2 separate regions of the Homo sapiens genome follow, and region 2 is linked to region 1. A link means that fine-mapping ties the variant in region 1 to the expression of a gene that starts in the linked region. Tissue or cell type: whole blood. Region 1 holds a variant in brackets; the other region holds the start of a gene. All regions are shown on one strand. Distances are between the middles of the regions.

Region 1 (11,174 bases):
AAGATGACATTTCTAGGCCCTCCCAGCATCTGGGTGGAGTCACACACCTAGTGTTGCTAATGGAACATGGCCAGAGTTGAGGCCATTGGCAGGCCTGCCCACAGAAGGGCTGTGTGACAGCTCCTGCTGTCTCTTTCCTCAGTTTGTGTGACTGGAAGCCAAGGAGTCCAAGCTGGTGACACTGCACAGCAGAAGGAGCCTGTGTCCTTGAGTTTACCGCTCAGCGGAAAACCATCTTGGTTCAGGGAAAACCCATGAACCAAGAACATCCACGTCAGACATTTCACAGACGAGAAATAAACATTTACTCTGGTAAGTTCCTGAGATTTTGAGGTTGATTCTTTCAGCAATGATTGAGAATCTGGGCTCCAAATTCAGTTTAACTCATTTTTTTTCCTGTGGTCAGCTAAGAAATAGAGTTCATTTATGCCCTTTCAGAAAGAGCCAAATTGCCACATGGATTAGCATCTCATCTAGGGTTGCCAGACTTAGCAAATAAAAATACAAGACAGGCCAGGTGCAGTGGCTCACACCTGTAATCCCCACACTTTGGGAGGCTGAAGTGGGCAGATCACTTGAGGCCAGGGGTTCGAGACCAGTCTGGCCAACACAGTGAAACCCCCATTTCTACTAAAAAACACAAAAATTAGCCAGGCGTGGTGGTGCACGTCTGTAATCCCAGCTACTCAGGAGGCTGAGGCAGGAGAATTGCTTGAACTCAGGAGGTGGAGGATGCAGTGAGCTGAGATTGTGACACTGCACTCCAGCCTGGGTGACAGAACGAGAGCCTGTCTCAAAAAAACGAAAACAAACAACAACAACAAAAATATAAGCCACCTAGTTCAACATGAATTCAGATAAGCCACAAATACTTTTTTAGAATAAATAGGTTTTGTGCAATTATTTGGGACATTACTGATAACAAGAAATAACTCATTGCTTACCTGAAATTCAAACATAACCAGGGGTCTGGCATCTTACTTGGCCAGCCAAGTTTCATGCTATCACATCCACATCTTGACTCTGCTCAGAAAGAGCTGCCCAACTTCTCCACCAATCAACTTCCTTCCATTCCTCAAGTCTTGGCCCTCATTCCACTTTCTCCAGGAAGACTTCCCTTCCAGCCTCGCCTTTCTAGCTCTCTGGTAGTCCTTATCACACTGCACTTGTCTTATGGTGATGCCAGTCTTGCTCTTCTTGTATTATTATTGTTGTTATTAATATTAGAGATAGAGCCTTGTTCTGTCTTCCAGGCTGGAATGCAGTGGTACAATCACAGCTCACTGCAGCCTCGACCTGGGTTCAAGCGATCCCCCCCGCTTCAGTCTCCTGAAGCTGGGACCACAGGTGTGCACCACCATGCCTGGCTGATTTTTTATTTCTTGTAGAGACAGAGTCTCCCTATGTTGCCCAGGCTGGTCTCAAACTCCTGGGTTCAAATAATCTTCTTTGAGCCTCAGCCTCCCAAATTGCTGGGATTACAGGTGTGAGCCATTGTGCCCAGCCCTGGCTCTTCTTGTTTTTGTTTGTTTGTTTTTTGAGATGGAGTTTTGCTCTTGTCACTGGAGTGCAATGGTGTGATATCGGCTCACTGCAACCTCCGCCCCCTGGGTTCAAGCAATTCTCCTGCCTTAGCCTCCCAAGTAGCTGGGATTACAGGCGCCCGTCACCACGCTCGGCTAATTTTTTTGTACTTTTAGTAGAGATGAGGTTTTGCCATGTTGGCCAGGCAGGTCTCAAACTCCTGACCTCAGGTGATCCACCTGCCTCGGCCTCCCAAAGTGCTGGGTGTGAGCCACCACACCCGGCCCTGGCTCTTCTTTCAGAGGTTGATTCTTGAAGGTGAAGACAGACTCTTTGTTCGCTGCTCCTCCCCTGTATCATTCATTCATTCAGCAAACATCCACAGAGGATCTCCTCCACGCCTGGCACACAGCAGGCATGGACACTGCTCTTGGGGACCTTCCAGTTTTGTAGGAAAGGATGCTATTCAAAAACCATATGAACGAATATTGTCAATACCTGGAAGGAATGTTACAGAGTGCTGAGAGAATTTGTCAGGAAGGGCCTGCTTTTATTTGTTGATATTTATTTACTTATGGTAGACATGGGGTCTTGCTATGTTGCCCAGAATGGTCTTGAACTCCTGGGTTCAAACGATCTTCCCACCTCGACCTCCCAAAGTGCCTGGCCTGATTTTTAGTTTTAATCCTTTATTTTTATTTTTATTTTTTTAGAGACAGGGTCTCATTCTGCTGCCCAGGCTGGAGTGAAATGGTGCAATCATAGCTCACTGCAGTGTCGAATTCCTGGGCTGGAGCAATCTTCCCATCTGAGTCTCGAGTAGCTGGAATTACAAACATGTGCCACTACGCATAGCTTTATTTACTGATTTTCTTTTTTATTTACTGATTTTCTTTTCTTTTTTCTTTTTCGAGACAGAGTCTTGCTCTGTCACCCAGGCTGGAGTGCAGTGGCGCGATCGCAGCTCACGGCAAACTCTGCCTCCCAGGTTCAAGCAATTCTGCCTCAGCCTCCTGAGTAGCTGGGATTACAGGCATCTACCACCACAGCCGGCTAATTTTTGTATCCTTTTTTTTTTTTTTTGGAGATGGAGTCTTGCTCTGTCACCCAGGCTGGAGTGCAGTGGCACAATCTCGGCTCACTGCAAGCTCCGCCTCCCGGGTTCATGCCATTCTCTCGCCTCAGCCTCCGGAGCAGCTGGGACTAAGGGCGCCCGCCACCACGCCCGGCTAATTTTTTTGTTCGTTTGTTTTTTAGCAGAGACGGGGTTTCACCGTGTTGGCCAGGATGGTCTCAAACTCCTGACCTCGTGATCCGCCCACCTTGGCCTCCCACAGTGCTGGGATTACAGGCGTGAGCCACCACACCTGGCCTATTTATTGATTTTTTACAACCACTTTATTGAAGTATGAGTGACATACAAATATGCGCATATTTAGTGTATACAGCTTGATGAGTTTGGGGATAAGTATGCACCCGTGAAACCATCACCAAAATCTATGTTAGAAACATACCCATGACCTCCAAAGGATTTCTCCTGCCATCTTTATTATTATTATTATTATTTTATTTATTTATTTATTTTTTTGAGACGGAGTCTTGGTCTGTCGCCCAGGCTGGAGTGCAGTGGTGCCATCTCGGCTCACTGCAAGCTCCTCCTCCCGGGTTCACATCATTCTCCTGCCTCAGCCTCCCGAGTAGCTGGGACTACAGCCACCCGCCAACATGCCCAGCTAATTTTTTTGTATTTTTAGTAGAGACAGGGTTTCACTGTGTTAGCCAGGATGGTCTTGATCTGCTGACCTCGTGATCCGCCTGCCTCGGCCTCCAAAAGTGCTGGGATTACAGGCGTGAGCCACCGCGCCCGACGTATTTTTTATTATTATTGTGATAAAAATACTGCAATGATCAGAATGTTTGTGTTCACAGGTGGAACAATTCATAGGTGGAAACCCTAACTCCCAAGGTGACGGTATTAAGAGGTGGAGCCTTTGGGAGGTGATGAGGTCATGAGAGTGAGGCCCCCATGAATGGGATTCGTGCTTTTTTTTTTTTTTTTTTTTTTTTTTTGAGACAAAGTCTTGCTGTGTCGCCCAGGCTGGAGTGCAATGGTGCAATCTCAGCTCACTGCAACCTCTGCCTCCCGGGTTCAAGCGATTCTCCTGCCTTAGCCTTCCGAGTAGCTGGGACTACAGGCGTGCATCACCGTGCCCAGCTAATTTTTGTATTTTTAGTAGAGATGGAGTTTCACTATATTGGCCAGACTGGTCTCAAACTCTTGACCTCATGATCCGCCCGCCTCGGCCTCCCAAAGTGCTGAGATTACGGGCGTGAGCCCCTGTGCCCTGCCAGGTTTGCTGTTTTTAGATGCCACATATGAGTGAGATCTTACAGTGTTTGTCTCTCTGAGCCTGGCTTGTCTCACCCTAACATCACGTCCTGCAGCTTCATCCACGTTGGCACAAGTGACGTGACAGGATTTCAGGAAGGATTTTTAGAGTGGAATCAGCGATGGTTCCTGTCCAGGGAGAGACATTCAGGCTGTGGCAAGAAGGGCGAATAGGAATCAAACTCATGACAAGTTGAGAAAAGAAATTTCCAGGAAGACACTGAGGTGGAAGGAAATCGGCTTGGTCCGTTTTGTTTGAGGAACTGAAAGGAGGCCTGGGGCGTGAAGAGAGGGTGAGTGAGAGGCGTCTGCGGTGACAGACTGGGCTGTCCCTCTGGCCTCCTTGGCAGTTCTACCCTGAGAAGTAAGAGGCAGGGAGGGGCACAAGCTAATCTGTTTCTAGCTTTCCCAGGCTGCTCTGTGAGAGTCACAGAAAGGGAAGTACAAAAGTAGAAGTAGGCTGGGCACGGTGGCTCACGCCTGTAATCCCAGCACTTTGGGAGGCTGAAGCGGGCGGATCACTTTAGGTCAGGAGTTAAAGACCAGCCTGGCCAACATTGTGACCCCCACCTCTACTAAAAAAAAAAACAAAAATTAGCTGGGCGTGGTGGCAGGTGCTTGTAGTCCCAGCTACTCAGGAGGCTGAGGCAGAAGAGTCGCTTAAACTCAGGAGGTGGAGGTTGCAGTGAGCCGAAATCACACCCCCTACACTCCAGCCTGGTGACAAAGTGAGACTCTGTCTCAAAAACAAAAACAAAAACAAAAGAAAACAAAAAAGTAGGGCCGGGTGTTGTGGCTCACGCCTGTACTCCCAGCACTTTGGGAGGCCGAGGAGGGCAGATTACCTGAGGTCGGGAGTTGGAGACCAGTCTGACCAACATGAAGAAACCACATCTCTACTAAAAACACAAAATTAGCCGGGTGTGGTGGCACATGCCTGGAATCCCAGCTACTCGGGAGGCTGAGGCAGGAGAATCGCTTGAACCCAGGAGGCGGAGGTTGCGGTGAGCTGAGATCACGCC[G/A]TTGTACTCCAGCCTGGGTAACAAGAGCAAAACTCTGTCTCAAAAAAAAAAAAAAAAAAAAAAAGTGGAAGTAGCAAGGCCAGTGATGAGGCCATCCCAGTAACTCAGCCAAGGGAAACATGGCAGAGCCCATGTCTGAAAGGTGCTCCCGCATTTCCACTCCCACCTGTTCTTCCAGAACTTTACCACTCCCATCAAGAGGTGGAGTCTACTTCCCTCACCTTGAACCCGGGCGAGACTTTGACTGCCTTGACAAATGGATGTGGCAAAGCGACGTTGCATGACTTTTTTTTTTTTTTTTGAGATGAGTTTCACGCAGTCTCAGCTCACTGCAACCTCTGCCTCTGGGTTCAAGTGATTCTCCTGCCTCAGCCTCCCGAGGAGCTAGGATTACAGGCAGGAAAACAACAGACCACACCATGGTTCCACTGGGGCTTGAACCCAGGACCTTCTGCGTGTAAAGCAGATGTGATAACCACTACACTATGGAACCACAGGCTAGCTGAGTTTCAAAGCTAGACTATGAGGCCATGAGGCTGGGCACAGTGGCTCACACATGTAATCCGAGCACTTTGGGAGGCCAAGGTGGGTAGATCACCTGAGGTCAGGAGTTCGAGACCAGCCTGGGCAACATGGCAAAACTCCGTCTCTACTAAAAATACAAAAAAAATTAGCCAAGCGTGGTGGCATGTGTCTGTAGTTCCAGCTACTTGGAAGGTTGAGGCAGGAGAATTGCTTGAACCAGGGAGGCAGAGGTTGCAGTGAGCTGAGGTCGTGCCACTGCACTCTAGCCCGGGCAACAGAGCGAGACCCTGTCTCAAAAAAATAAATAAATAAATAAATACATAAATAAAGTTAGGCTATGACAGGCAATATGGCCTTGCCTGGCGCTCCCTCCCTCTCTCTCAGCTCACACCAGCCCACATGGAGAGACCGAGGGAGAGGCCCATGTGAGGAGGAACTGAGGTCGTCAGCCAGCAGCATCTGCCAGACATGGGTGATTTCAGCCTTCAAATCTTCCAGCTGCAATCCCCAGTCCCTGGGAGCAGAGACAAGCCATCGCTGCTGGACCCTGTCTGAATTCCTATACATAGAATCCATGAGCATAACAAAGGGCTGCTTTACACGGCTAGATTTGGGGGTAATTTGCTGTGCAGCCACAGTACCTGGAACAAGAGGACAATGGCTGGAGTTGCCTAGTGGCTGTCGGTGGGCTTGTTGAAAGTGGACCTATTTGAGATGCTGAATAGAAATTGAATTAACAAGATGTAGTCATGAAAGGGACAGAAAATGTCTTAATTATAAAAAAATTATAAAGACCCAGCCAGGCGTGATGGCTCATGCCTGTAATGCACTTTGGGAGGCGGAAGCGGGCGGATCACCTGAGGTAGGGAGTTTGAGATCAGCCTGACCAACATGGTGAAACCCCGTCTCTACTGAAAATACAAAATCAGCTGTGCGTGGTGGCGGGCACCTGTAATCCCAGCTACTCAGGAGGCTGAGGCACGAGAATTGCTTGAACCCAGGAGGCAGAGGTTGCAGTGAGCCGAGATTGTGTCATTGCACTCCAACCTGGGCAACAAGAGTGAAACTCCGTCTCAAAAAAAAAAAAAATAAATAAACAAATATAAAGATACAAACCAGGCACGGTGGCTTACGCCTGTAATTCCAGCACTTTGGAAGCTGAGGTGGGTGGATTGCTTGAAGCCAGGAGTTTGAGACCAGCCTGTCCAACATGGTGAAACCCCGTCTCTACTAAAAATACAAAAATTAGCCAGGTGTGGTGGCACACACCTGAGTGTGTGTGTACCAGCTTCTCAGGAGGCGGAGGCATGAGAATGGCTTGAACCCAGGAGGCGGAGGTTGCAGTGAACCGAGGTCATGCCACTGCACTTCCATCCCCAGGGAGGGAAGGAGCAAAAGAAAACTAGGAAAAGGGGCTAAAAATGGTGCTTGTCTCACTGCTTTCTTCAGTTGAGCTCTTCTTGGTCTTGTGCTGGTAACTTGATGATTTTCATTCGCCTTTGACGACTCAGCCCATTAAGCCAAAGAGGCTCACCTGGTGCTACTCAGCCTGGGTGACAGAGGGAGACTATGTCTCAAAAAAAACAAAAAACAAAAAATACAAATAAAGATATGAAGGAAGGCCCAGTTAGAATACATTTTTGAAAATACTTCTTTACATTTTTAATGACGCATGCATTTCATATTGAGAGCTTCATTCTTTCGGTTTAATAATTTGATCCTTGTTAAAATGCAGACAATTGGCTGGGCATGGTGGCTCATATCTTTGGGAGGCTGAGGTGAGCAGATCACTTGAGCCCAGGAGTTTGAGACCAGCCTGGGCAACATGGTGAAACCCTGTCTCTACTAAAAAAAATACAAAAAAATAATTAGCTAGGTGTGGTGGTGCCTGCCTGTGGTCCCAGCTACTTGGGAGCCTGAGGTAGGAAGATCGCTTGAACTCAGGAGTCAGAGGCTGCAGTAAGCCGGGATCACACCCCTGCACTCCAGCCTGACAGTGAAATCCTGTCTCAAAAAAAAAAAAATGCAGACAACTCAAGGATTGATAAAATTTGAAATTTTTTCATTAACACCTTAGCATGAATGAAGACTGAAACCTAGTTTTCTTTTTGATAAAGACAATGGAGGCGTCCAAGGGCTAAGGACATACATCCCCAGGGAGGGAAAGAGAAAGAGAAAAAGTAGGAAAAGGGGCTAAAAATGGTGTTTGTCTCACTGCTTTCTTCAGTTGAGCTCTTCTTGGTCTTGTGCTGCTAACTTGATGATTTTCATTCGCCTTTGACGACTCAGCCCATTAAGCCAAAGAGGCTCACCTGGTGCGACTGTTACTCACAATGGCTCACACGTGTTGGGTGCACGTGCTGGGCCAAGCATCATGCACGCTGTAAGGTATATAGATGTGATTTGGTCAAGGTAGAGACCGAGGCGGATATACAGGCCTGCACGGCTCAGTGAGTTTGGTGCGCAGGCGCACACCTCCGCTTGTTACATAACCTGTTTGTGTAAGTTCATACTTGGCTCTGAGCCACTATTGTCTGTAAAAGGTATAACTGCCCTGCTGACGCCGTACAGGTGCTTTTGAGGCTCAGCTTGGCTCGACATGGCTTGATGTGGTGGGTGCGCTGGCGCCCAGAGAAAGGGAGACAGCCAAAGCTGTCCATCTTGTAGACAGACAGGAGGGAGCCAGGACACAGCTCTGCTTGCTTGTGCCAGAGAAAGAAAGAGTTAAGCTGCTGACCCTGAAGGCAAGGGAGAGCCGGGGGTCACAGGAGCCACAGAGCCAAAGCAAATAGCAGAGATAAAGGTGGACAGGGTGAGAGAGCTAATGTGAGTAAGCTGCTAATAAAAAGCCATTGATGAGAACTGCTGCTGAATAAAACCATATTCACCTGCCTAGGCCCCCTGCACCAAAGCGTTTCTGCTCATCCACCCCACTCACCTTGGACTTCAGCATGGGCTGGACCTGGACCGGGGTCTGACACACACCAACTCGGTTAATCCTCACAGTAAACCTGGGAAGGAGGTGCCATTTTGCCCATCGTTTACCAGGACACTGAGAGGCAGGGAGTGTGACCTGCATGAGGTCACTTGGAGCATCACTGTAGGGGACTAACACCCTACACGGCTATGCGGCCTTGTTCTCTGCTCCGAATGCCATCTTCACAGATTGTTCTCATGTCCCTTACAACTGCGTATCTATAAATAAGTGGATTTGCTCTCTGGTCTCTAAGACTTTAAAAGCTAAGGTTAAGGAGTGTGTGTGTTAGGGGAAGGGTGGGGACAGCAGCAAAGACTTGCACAGATAATTGTCCCCAAATAGTCTCAATGAAGGCACCTCTGATAAGGGCATATGGCAAAGCCCTGAACCATCCCTAAATTTCAATTTTCTTCTAGCAGTCATATGACTGATCTATGGTCAGGAGGATGTGAACAGAAATGATCTACATGCCTTCTGAAAAAAAGGGGGCATGCATAGCCTCCCTTTCATTCTTTTTTCTTTTATATATTTTTTTTATTTTATTTTTTTCGAGACAGGGTCTCACTCTGTCTCCCAGGCTGGAGTGCAGAGATGCAATCTCAGCTCACTGTAATCTCTGCCTCCCGGGTTCAGGCGATTCTCCTGCCTCAACCTCCCAAGTAGCTGGGAGTACAGGTGTGTGCCACCATGCCCAGCTAATTTTTGTTTGTTTGTTTTGAGATGGAGTTTCGCTCTTGTTGCCCAGGCTGGAGTGCAATGGCACGATCTCGGCTCACTGCAACCTCCGCCTCCCAGGTTCAGGAGATTCTCCTGCCTCAGCCTCCCGAGTAGCTGGGACTACAGGCATGTGCCACCATGCCCGGCTAATTTTGTATTTTTAGTAGAGATGGGGTTTTTCCATGTTGGTCAGGCTGCTCTCCAAGTCCCGACCTCAGCTGATCCACCCATCTCACCCTCCCAGAGTGCTGGGATTACAGGCAGGAGCCACGGTGCCCAGCCTAATTTTTGTATTTTTAGTAGAGGCAGGGTTTCACCATGTTGGCCAGGCTGGTCTCGAACTTCTGGCCTCAAGTGATCCACCTGCCTCAGCCTCCCAGAGTGCTGGGATTACAGGTGTGAGCCACTGCGCCTGGCCCTCCCCTTCATTCCTGTTCCCCTCCACAGGTTGGGGAGCAATCTTGGACCACATGGAAAAGGGCAACCTACTCAGGACAGCAGAACAACCAGCAGAAGGAACCGGGGGGCTGACACCTGGGGCTGGTTGAGCTCATCTGTACTTGGCTATGCCCAGACTCTTATGCGGGAAAGAAAATAAACTTTGGTTTAGTCCACTGTTATTTTTTGGTCTTTATTTAGAGACAGGGTCTCACTCAGTCACCTAGGCTGGAGTGCAGTGGTGTGATCATAGCTCACTGCAGCTGTGAACTCCTGGGCTCAAGGCATCCTCCAGCCTCAGCCTCCCAAAGTGCTGGGATTACAGGTGTGAGCCACCCCACCTCCATCTAATATTAAATCACAAAATGGAATTATCTAAGTCTGTATCAGCTGGAAGAGAGGAAAGGATGTGGTAGACCCAAGGCTCTGTGTTCAAGGGACAGGACGAGCCACAAGCTGGATTTTGTTCCTACGTCTTTTGCGTTCATTTACCTTTTAGCTAATCGTGGATTTTCAGCAACACTGGGAAAAATAAAGACCATGCATGTTGTAGGCTGGCACAGGTGGAAGCTCTAGAACTCTGAGAGCTGCTTTAAAGGTACCACATACTGTAATCTAAATAGAAACACCCTATCATATCCAAGGAATCTGTGCCATCCCACTCCCAGCATTGTAGTGAGTGCCTGTGTATGCCTGTATCTACTCACAAGAGCTCTTTTTTTTTAAAGGAGCTATAAAGGAGATTATTTCTGCTGTGCTGTAGTCTGTTTTTTTTTTTACTTGTAAATGTATAACCCAAATTTTGTCATTATTTGAAATTATGTGTAGAGCTAATTTACCCAATATAAAAATGACTCTTACAAATCAACAAGACAAAACAATGGTCAAAAGATGAAGCAAGAACTGGTTTCATTAATGGCCCCAATCAATGGCCTCTGTGTCCAGTCTGTGGGTTCTGCCCCCTACACTAATTCTGGGCATGACCATGCCTTGCTTTGGCCAATGGGATGGAAGCATCTACACAAACAGAGCGGAGACTGGAAAGCACATTTAAGTCTCTTTTCTCTCTTGAATCTCTGCCACTGTCATGAAAAATAAGCCTGGGCTAGCCGAATGGAGAGACCATGGGGAGCAGAGCCAGCTTGATCCACCCAAGGCCATCCTATACCAGCTCAGCAACTCACTGGCTGACGGGACGCAGGAGTGAGCCCAGTTGCGAGCAGCAAAGCCACCCAGATGCCCTACAGACTCCTGTTTCAACCCAGTGAGCTTTGGGGTGGTCTGTCATTTAGTAACAGCTAACTGATACAGGTAAAAATAGGAAAAAGGGCTATAATGGCCAAAAAAACAAATCTAAAGATCTTCAATCTGATTGAGAAATGCCAAGGCCGGGTGTGGTGGCTTATGCCTGTAATCCCAACACTTTTGGAGGCCAAGGTGAAAGGACTGCTTAAGGCCAGGAGTTCGAGACCAGCCTGGCCAACACAGTGAGACCCCCCTATAAAAGTGGAATCTCTACATAAATTTTAAAAATTAGCTGGGCGAGCTGGTGCGTGCTTGTGGTCCCAGCTGCTCAGGAGGC
Region 2 (9,325 bases), 41 kb before region 1:
TTGTTGTTATTAAAAAAAAAAAAAAAAAAAAACTACAAATACACACACACACACACACACACAAATGTGATCAGGAGTACAAAGTATCTAATAACTAATATTAAAGTGCCTTTTCAAAACTACTTACCTAGAAACATGAGAAATTAACCAGAAAAATTTTAAATCAGTTCATTTCAATGGCAAGTATCTTACAGCAACATAATAAAAATGGCTGTTTTATGAAGAATGTTTCTTTAAATGACTCTGCCCCTCTAATGCATCTCATTAAAAACTGTCAGCCAGGCGCGGTGGCTCATGCCTATAATCCCAGCACTTTGGGAGGCCTAGGCGGGTGGATCACCTGAGGTTAGGAGTTCGAGACCAGCCTGATCAATATGGTGAAACCCCATCTCTACTAAAAATACAAATATTAGCTGGGCATGGTGGCAGGCACCTGTAATCCCAGCTACCCGGGAGGCTGAGACAGGAGAACTGCTTGAACCTGGGAAGCAGAGGTTGCGGTGAGCCGAGATCACATCACTGTACTCCAGCCTGGGCAACAGAGTGAGACTCCATCTCAAAAAAAAACAAAAAAAAAAACTGTCAAAAGATACCTTCTCTTGAAATGTGGCTAATTATATCACTCTCCTGCTCAAAGTCCTCTCTCACTGCCTTGAAGATAATTTTCACATTTCTTAGCCTAGAATCTCTCTCCAAAGCTTCTGTTTCAAGCAAAACAAACCACTCCCCATTCCCTACATACATCCTTGACTTAGCATTGACTTACACTGACTGCTCTCTGCCTAAAAAATCATTCCTCCATTCAAACCTTGCCAATATTTTTTTAAAGCCAGCTAAATATCTCCTTCTTTACGAAGGTTTTCCTGATTCCCTGACTGAACTCATATAAGTGCACCTCTTAGGGGACTTAATGCTTTCTCATACTAATTCTTATTAGTTACTCTCCAACACGAGAACAAGCTACTTATAGACAGGTTCTGTGTTTACCTTTTTACTGCCCATAACTGATCACAATAGTCACTGGGTTTAAATAACTGAAACTGAAACTATTACTCCAGTAAGAGTCTCCAATCAGGTACCATGGGAGGGAAGACAGAGGTAATTGCAGTGTATCACGCATGTGAACATCTACCAGTGGTCTTTAAAAACCAATGTCACACTATTGTCATCTCTACATGCTAAAATATGTCTAATTTCACTTATATTTTCTTTTGGCCAGGATGCTTAACGCTGGTTTAAACTGCCTACAACACAGCTCCCAAGTGTAACAGCATTTGCAAATATTGATCCTATGCTCACTACTGTAGTGAATAGAAAGTCCTTTGTCTACAGAACTCTAACACAGCTATAAGCAAGAACTCTCAAAGAGCAAATCAAAGATTAAGCAAATCCAAGAGGCAATCTGAATTTTAGTTCAGAATTTTAAAATCAAGTATAAAACCTTCTCTGAATCTGAAATCACAAAATTCTGATAAAGAGAAATGAGGAAAAGTATCTGGGATGTAAAGCAAGTTTTTAAACATATGATGCTGAGAATCATCTGGTATACATCACTAAAGTATATATTTCTATTCATAAATTCTTACTGTGTAGAACAAAAAATGGGAAGAAAAAAACCTCTGGGAAGCACAAACAGCTGTGGAACTAGTTACTCTTATTGTTTTAATCTACTATGTCTAACAAGACTCGTGAATTTATTTCCAAGTCCATAGTGAACTATGTGCAAATTATGTGGTGAGAGGCTGCCTACACATGCTGAAAGCAGAGAAAAGTAAATGTTGCCAGCCTAACAGTAAAGTAAGATAGAGGGAAAAAATATGAAGAGTAAACTGAAGAGCTCAAAAAGCATAGCAGCCTGAGAGTAAAGGGGGCAAAAGTTCCTACAAAGCTGGCGGGGTCTTCATGGCTTCACCATGTTACAGCATAACACAATAGTTAATCTTCACTATGTGAAAACTTGGTTATCAAGTAAATTATGTTTCTTAGTTTGTTAAAGAAGTTGTGACAGCATTTAGAAAGGCATTATCCAAAAGCTGTGCTCTTTAGAGATAACCTTTAGTTCCTCAGAAAATTCAATTGTGTGGAATATTCCATTTCTTTTACACACAGAATGAAGATTTTACTCCTTTATACCAAATCGTTTTGTATCTTCTTGATTAAGATAACTATCAATATTTGTGATTATGAGCTTAGACTTAACAACTCATACAAACAATGGCAGCACTAAGCAACACAGCAACTCCAGCACTTCCTTACACTTCTTTAAAAGTAACAAGTTCCTAACACTGAAAGTACTTGCCTTTTTTTAGGTTCTTAAGTCTCAGGCACTAAAGTAAATTTTAAGAAAATTAATTAACTCCAGACATTCAAAAGTTAATTCTGAGTGCTAACTTTGGTTTTCTCTTCTTCTAATTTTTAATCATCTAATTCCTGGTAACACTAAAAATAAGGATATATGATTTCTCATTATCAAAATCATCCTGTCATCACTACTCCTATCAATGATGGTAATAATGTGATTGTCCTGAATTGATATAATTATCAAAGAACATCTCAGAAAACTTAGGAAGGCTCACAGAGATTAAAGTTATCACAGCTACAAAATGACAGCAGAAACAGGTCTGATTTCTAGTTAAGTATGCATCTACCATTCATCAAAGAGTTCACAATCCGAATGAAAATTTAAACAAAGCTCATTATCTTAACTTGTTATATAAAAACACTTTCACCATCTTTGATACAAAGTGATGTGAACGAGGCTTGTGGAAGCCTGCATGATGGTGGATTTGCACTCACTCGTGCATGCTTAACTGACCTCAATTGTGAGCAAATCTGAAAGACCAGCAACAACCATAGAAAAACGGTGGAACTAACCGGCTCTTAAAACACGCTGGCAGCAACACTACCCATTCCAACAGGCAAAATCCACCACAAACTACTAAGCTCAGCTTGGAATCCCAATTAGGCACTTAAAAAAAAAAAAAAAAAAGCACAAAACCTGCAGTGGGTAGGGCCTATTCATTTAGGCATCCAACAGTCTTCCAGCTTTTCAAAGACAGACACAGGATTATTCCTGGATTGGTCAAACATAACGAAGTATTCAGAATGAATATTCTCTAATAATTGCATATAACTATAAACAGAAAAATGACAGACCAGAAAAACACGATTCTAATTCTTCACAAACCTTTCCTAAAAAATTAGCCAAATAAAAGTTCGAAGGTTTTCTCTTGCCTAGAGACATCTAAAAGTGTTATTTTGGGATGTTACCTGTAAAAAAAAAAAAAAAAATTGGTTTGACCCTGAGAGATTATAATAAATTTCAAAAAATTTGAAGTGGAAGTCTACATTAAATGACTCAGGAATTTGAAGTCAGAGTACATAGGATACACAAGATTTACATCAGTATTCATCTTAATTATGATCAAGCAGCCCAAAGTTAGAATTTCAAATTTCCCCAAAAATTGATAGTTAAAATGGTTTTCTCCAAAGTGAATTCTTTTGCAAGATGAACATTTAAAAAAAAAAAAAAAAGAACAGAAAAAGTACAAACTACAGAACCTGCCTGCGTTATCTACAGATTACCTAAAGTTCCCTTAGAAACAGATAACCAGGAAAATCAATATACCATGATATTAGGTACACCTTGCATTCATATATTACAATGCATTCTTCATGTTATTATCTTCCAACTCCCTGAAGAAAGCTTCGGAGTACAGAGAACTTGGCTTTTAGCAATCCATCACCAACCCAATTCTTAGGGGAAAACAGTCCAGAAGAGACAAAGGAGGCAGAGAACCCACCAAACAAAAGGAAAAGGCGGCGAAGGTCAGGTGCGAAAGCATTTGACGGACAAGTTTTGAAAAAACTCAATTCCAATTCTACAGATGCTCAGTAAGTGAGAAGGGAGGGTGGCTAAAAGGATTCAATAATACTTCTCATTAGCAGGGGGGAGAAAGGATTAAAAGACTAATTTCCACGTTTTCGCCAAAAATATAAGTTAATCAAGCCCTAGCAGTTCCGAAGCAGTGATTATCCAAGACTTGTCAGGAAACCCCGTACTCGGCTTTGGCAGCCAGACTGACCCGGGGCAGCGGCCGAGGCGGAATAGGAAATGCAACCGCGAGGCCTGCACCGTCCCCTCCGCCTCGGGTGCTGGTTTCCAACCGGGCGAGGTCACCGGCCCAAACCGGGGAGCGGGACCCTTGGCCCGGGCGGCCTTCTCCCCTCCCCTCCGCTTCCGCTGGGGGCAAGCGCAGAGGCCGGGCTCGGCCGTCACCCCGCCCCGAGCCTCACGGCCCGCATCTCCATTTCCCCGCCTGCCCCTCACACTGGGAGCCGCCCGCTCGCCCCGGGACGCGGGGCGCCCCTGAACCCGCCCGCGCCCCTAGCCACGACTCCCGTCCCGAAAACTACGGCTGACGGCAGAACGAGACCCCCGAGGAGCTGCGACCCGCGGGCCGTGCAGGAGCCGGGGGTGCGCCCGCCCCGGCTGCTCAGCCCCGGCCCCTCAGCCCTGGCGCCCACCGTCAGGCCGGTGCCCAGCACGATCACGTCGTACTCCTCATTCATGGCGGGGCAGGCGCGGACGCAGGACCCGAGCAAGGAAAAGGCGCAGGGGCTCCGTGACCACCCTACGAGGCTGGGAGGCGCTCTTGGGCGCGAAGGAAAGGGGAAGAGAAAGAGAGGAAAATGGAGCTGGCGACAAGGCGAGACCGACCGCCACCTCAGACGGGAAGAGAAGAACTGGGCGGGGAGAGGAGGGGAGGGAGCGAGGAGGGGAGGGCTGTGACTGAGCCTCCGCAGCCGGGGCGGGGCCTGCAGGCGCCGGGAGGGCCGCCAATCAGGCGCTCCCGGCACTCTAATTGGTTACGTCCCCGTCGCTCGCACAACTTTTTTTCCTTCCCCGCCTCTCGCGAGAGGAAAAGGGCGGGGCGTCGCCATTTTGGCTTCCGGTTCCCCTTGCGGCCTCTGCCACGGTGGTTCGGGAGGCGGCGCGCGGGCCGGGGTGGAGGTGCACGGAGCCGCGGGCGGGGACTGCTGGCCACCACCGTTCTGACTCCCGCCGTCGGGGCGGGAGCTCGCTCGGTCCAAGGTCCCAGAGCCGGATCGCCGCCCTTGGACTTTGAGCGGGCGCGTGCGGCGGCCACGTGGGCGAGGAGCGCGGGCCGGGCTGCCTCTCGGGGGTGGCGGCCTTGGTTCCTCCCGCGGGGCTGGGCTTGCCGGGGCCCGGAGCCCGCCGGGAAGAGTTCGGAAATCACACGTGTCCTTTTTCCCGCTCTGTGCCCTCCTTGTTTAGTGCGTTGCCGGTGGGCGCTTTAGGAAATTGGTAGGAGGAAAAGCGGCTTCTTTTGAAAAGGTAACCCTTAACAGAGATGAAAGTGAAAGCCAGGTTTCATTGGGAAGCCGATCTGCACCTACCGAGGGCTGTAACTTAAAGCCGCTGTAAACGTGGTAGCTGATCCTTGTATGCAAAGGTTTAGGCCCTAAGCTTAGAAACTGTTCCTTGCTTGCCTTCTACCCCGCTCCTCTTTTTCTAGAATTCTCTTAGGAATCTCTGGCTTCATTGAGGACACAGGTGTAAGCAGAAGCTGTGTTCTCAGCTCCAAGAGGCCGACCCCACGAAAGCCTAAGCAGGTGAATTTCGTAAAGACGTTGACAGTTGGAAAACCTGTGCTTTCAGCACGTGATAAATCTGCAGAGTCAGCAGACAATGAAGATTTGGCATTCAAGAACTCCTCAAATACTTCTCGATAGTAGCTATTCAGAGCCTGCCTTGATAGACCGAACTTGCTCATATTTAAATCATTAAGATAGAGGAAAGAATGTAACAACTTTTTAAAATGTTTCTTACCCCATAAATACTTGAAGAAGATATGTTATATTGGACCATGGATCTTTCTGGGGGGGAGGGGAGAAGAAAGCAAAAGTAAAGTTTAAATTTACATTCAACCTTAATTTGATTGTATATATTTGTGACCAAATGAATTAGTGCACAGTTGACCATACAACTGATTATGCAACAGTGAGTGTAACTGACTTTTCTTTTGGCTAAGCTAATGATGACTAAAGAAGGTCCTTCTGTTGCTCTGTCTTCAAGTCATCAGGGGGTCATACTACCTATATTTTTGAACCAATATGAAATAACCCTTTTTCTTTATTTTTCTGAGACAATCTCACCCTGTCGTCCAGGCTGGAGTGCAGCGGTGTAATCATGCCTCACTGCAGCCTTGATCTCCTGGGCTCAAGCCATCCTCCCACCTCAGTCTCCCCAGTAGCAGGGACAAGAGGTACAGGCCACCACACCTGACTATTGGCCCTTTTTTTTTTATTAGCAATAACAATAAAGAGCTTTTTTCACAATTGCCATCAGCCTCTGGCTCTTGAAGAGAAATTTAAGCATGTCAACTGAATTATGTTAACCATGTTTTAGGTGAAGACTATTTTATCGATACTCAAGAGTTGTGAGAAACTTGAAGACACTGAGATAAGGGAATTGAATTTAAGGCTAATAAGGATCCCTTCCTTACTTAACACTGAAGTTCATTTTAGTTCACAGTACAGGCCCTATGGCCCAACAGAAGGACAATAACAATCAAACCTGGACTAAGCCTTAACGGACTGAGTGCATCTAAAATGTTGTACCTGAGCCAGGCACAGTGCTTCACACCTGTAATCCTAACACTTTGGGAGGCTGAGATGGGAGGATCACTTGGGGCCAGGAGTGGGAGATGGGAGAATCACTTGGGACCAGCCTGTGCTGTAGAGCCTAGGTAACAGAGACACTGTCCCTATAAAAAAAATTAGCTGGAGGCCGGGCACGGTGATTGATGCCTGTAATCCCAGCACTTTGGGAGGCTGAGGTAGGCGGATCACAAGGTCAGGAGTTTGGAGTTTGAGACCAGCCTGGCCAATATGGTGAAACCCCATCTCTACTAAAAATACAAAAATTAGCCGGGCATGGTGGCACGTGCCTGTAGTCCCAGCTACCCGGGAAGCTGAGGCAGAGCAATCGCTTGAACCCGGGAGACGGAGGCTGAAGTGAGCCGAGATCGCGCCACTCCACTCCCGCCTGGGCAACAGAGTGAGACTCCGTCTCAAAAAAAAAAAAAAAAAAACTGGGCAGGCTGGGTGCAGTGGCTCACGCTTGTAATCCCAGCACTTTGGGAGGCCAAGGCGGGTGAATCACGAGGTCAGGAGTTCAAGACCAACCCGTCCCAAGATGGTGAAACCCCGTCTCTACGAAAACTACAAAAATTAGTTGGGCGTGGTGTCAGGCGTCTGTAATCCCAGCTACTCAGGAGTCTGAGGCAGAGAATTGCTTGAACCCAGGAGGCAGAGGTTGCAGTGAGCCAAGATCGTGCCACTGCACTCCAGCTTGGGTGACAAAGCGAGACTCAGTCTCAAAAAAAAAATCAGCTGGGCATGGTGGCATGAGCCTGCAGTCCTGGCTACTCAGGAGGCTGAGCTGGGAGGATCACTTGAGCCCAGGAAGGTCAAGCCATGATGATGCCACTGCACTCTAGCCTGGGCAACAGAGCAAAACCCTGTCTCAAAAAAAGAAAATTCTGTGCTTTTCTTGGATCTTCCACCCCACCCATTCCAGTTGCAAGGGAACTTGTAGATGACAAATACTGCTTAAGGTGAAGAGGCTTGAAAGCCACTAATTGGTTGAGTTGATCTCATGCCACAGATGGTAGTTCCTGCTACAGTGAAACCTTAGGTTTAGGGGAAGTAGGTTGGTTGGTGAAGATGAGTGGTAAACATCAATCTTTATTTTTAATTTTATTTTTTGGTGCCAAAACCCAAGATCAAACCAGGACACCATCAATCTTTAAAATATTTCAAATCTTGAAATCAGCCAGGTGTGGTGGCACATGCCTGTAGTCCCAGCTACTCGGGAGACAGGCAGGAGAATCAGTGGAACCCGAGAGGCTGAGGTTGCAGTCAGCCAAGATCGCGCCACTACACTCCAGCCTGAGTGACAGAGCCAGACTCCGTCTCAAAAAAAAAATAAAATAAAATATTTCAAACCTTTATGCAAAGCAGGAATCCATGGAGTCTTATTTATACTTGGGTACATGGGAATAATTGTTTGCTGATCTGTTTTTACTAAGCATCCATCTGCCCTTTGAAAAGGAGAGATTTAATCTAAGGAAAGAAAATGAGAGCGAACCTCAGCCCAGACCATCTTTTTCTCTCCTGCATCACTGTGGCAGTTTCTCAACAGGCTTTTTTCCCTCTCTTTTTCCTCTTCTCCTATCTGTTCTGTCCATTATCTTCTAAAAACACGCATCAGATCATGTTCAGGCTTCTGTATATCTTTTGTACTTAGAATACATTGTAGATCCTAGCCAGGCATGGTGGCTAACGCCTGTAATCCCAGTGCTTTGGGAGGCTGAGGCAGATCACCTGAGGTCAGGAGTTCGAGACCAGCCTGACCAACATGGTGAAACCCCGTCTCTACTAAAAATACAAAAATTAGCCTGGTGTGGTGGTGCACATCTGTAATTCCAGCTACTCAGGAGGCTGAGGCAGGAGAATTGCTGGAACCTGGGAGGCAGAGGTTGCAGTGAGCCAAGATGGCGCCACTGCACTCCAGCCCGGGAGACAGAGCAAGACTCCATCTCAAAAAAAAAAAAAAAAAAAAAAGGGATACATTGTAAATCCTTAAATATGACCTAATACCTTAATCTAGCCTCTGTATGTCTCTCCAACTCTATTTTTTAGTGCTCCTTGGCTCCTTGATCATTAAACCCCAAACATGCATGTGTTTCGGTTCCTAGAATCTGGTCAAGCTTTCAACCACCCGAGGGCCTTTGTACTCTTGGTTCCATGGCTACCACCCCTCACTTCCCCCTGCACTTCTTCATACAGCTAACTTTTTCCACTTCCTTAGGTCTCAGCTTTCCCCTCAACCATCATTCTCTATCAGTACCCTGCTTGTTTCTCACTGCTCTTATTAGAGGGGGTAATTATTTTCTTCACTTGTTCTTTGCTTTTCAAATTGGATGTAAACTCCATAGGGGCAGGGATATGAAGCCTGGACAGCCAGTAAAGGGCTGAGCAACTAGTAGAGGATGAGTAAATATTTGACAAATGAATAGGGGACTTGGAAGTTGAGCCCTAGATCAACAAGGACTGAATATGATGATATTGGTACTAGTTTCCTTTTTTCTTTTTTAAGACAGGGTCTCACTCTGTTGCCCAGGCCAGAGTGCAGTGGCACAACCATAGCTCTGTGCAGCCTCAGCCTCCCGGGCTGAAGTGATCCTCCCTCCGCAGCCTCCTGAGTAGCTAGGAGTACAGGCATGTGCCCACCATG

Evidence for each region. PIP is the estimated chance that this variant, and not a neighbour inherited with it, causes the effect.
Region 2: it holds the start of GDI2, and the variant in region 1 is fine-mapped to the expression of GDI2 in whole blood (TOPMed, PIP above 0.99).

The regions. Positions count from the first base shown.
Region 1 is chr10:5,848,356-5,859,529 of GRCh38, forward strand. It overlaps TRV-TAC3-1 (tRNA-Val (anticodon TAC) 3-1), which reads right to left and starts at 5,428; the gene lies at 5,356-5,428. RefSeq lists enhancers at 3,947-3,996, 4,127-4,216, 4,311-4,480, 4,737-4,796, a cis regulatory region at 4,396 and a silencer at 5,277-5,477. The variant G/A (reference allele first, on the strand shown) is at 4,936.
Region 2 is chr10:5,808,687-5,818,011 of GRCh38, forward strand. GDI2 (GDP dissociation inhibitor 2) reads right to left here and starts at 4,748. Exons shown (of 11, transcript NM_001494.4): 1 at 4,528-4,748. The coding sequence starts at 4,572. LOC124902367 (a long non-coding RNA gene) reads right to left here and starts at 4,511. Exons shown (of 2, transcript XR_007062041.1): 1 at 3,629-4,511; 2 at 1-3,270. RefSeq lists silencers at 4,029-4,568, 4,709-4,978, 5,039-5,218 and enhancers at 4,170-4,762, 4,763-5,355, 5,419-5,518, 8,879-8,948, 8,969-9,088.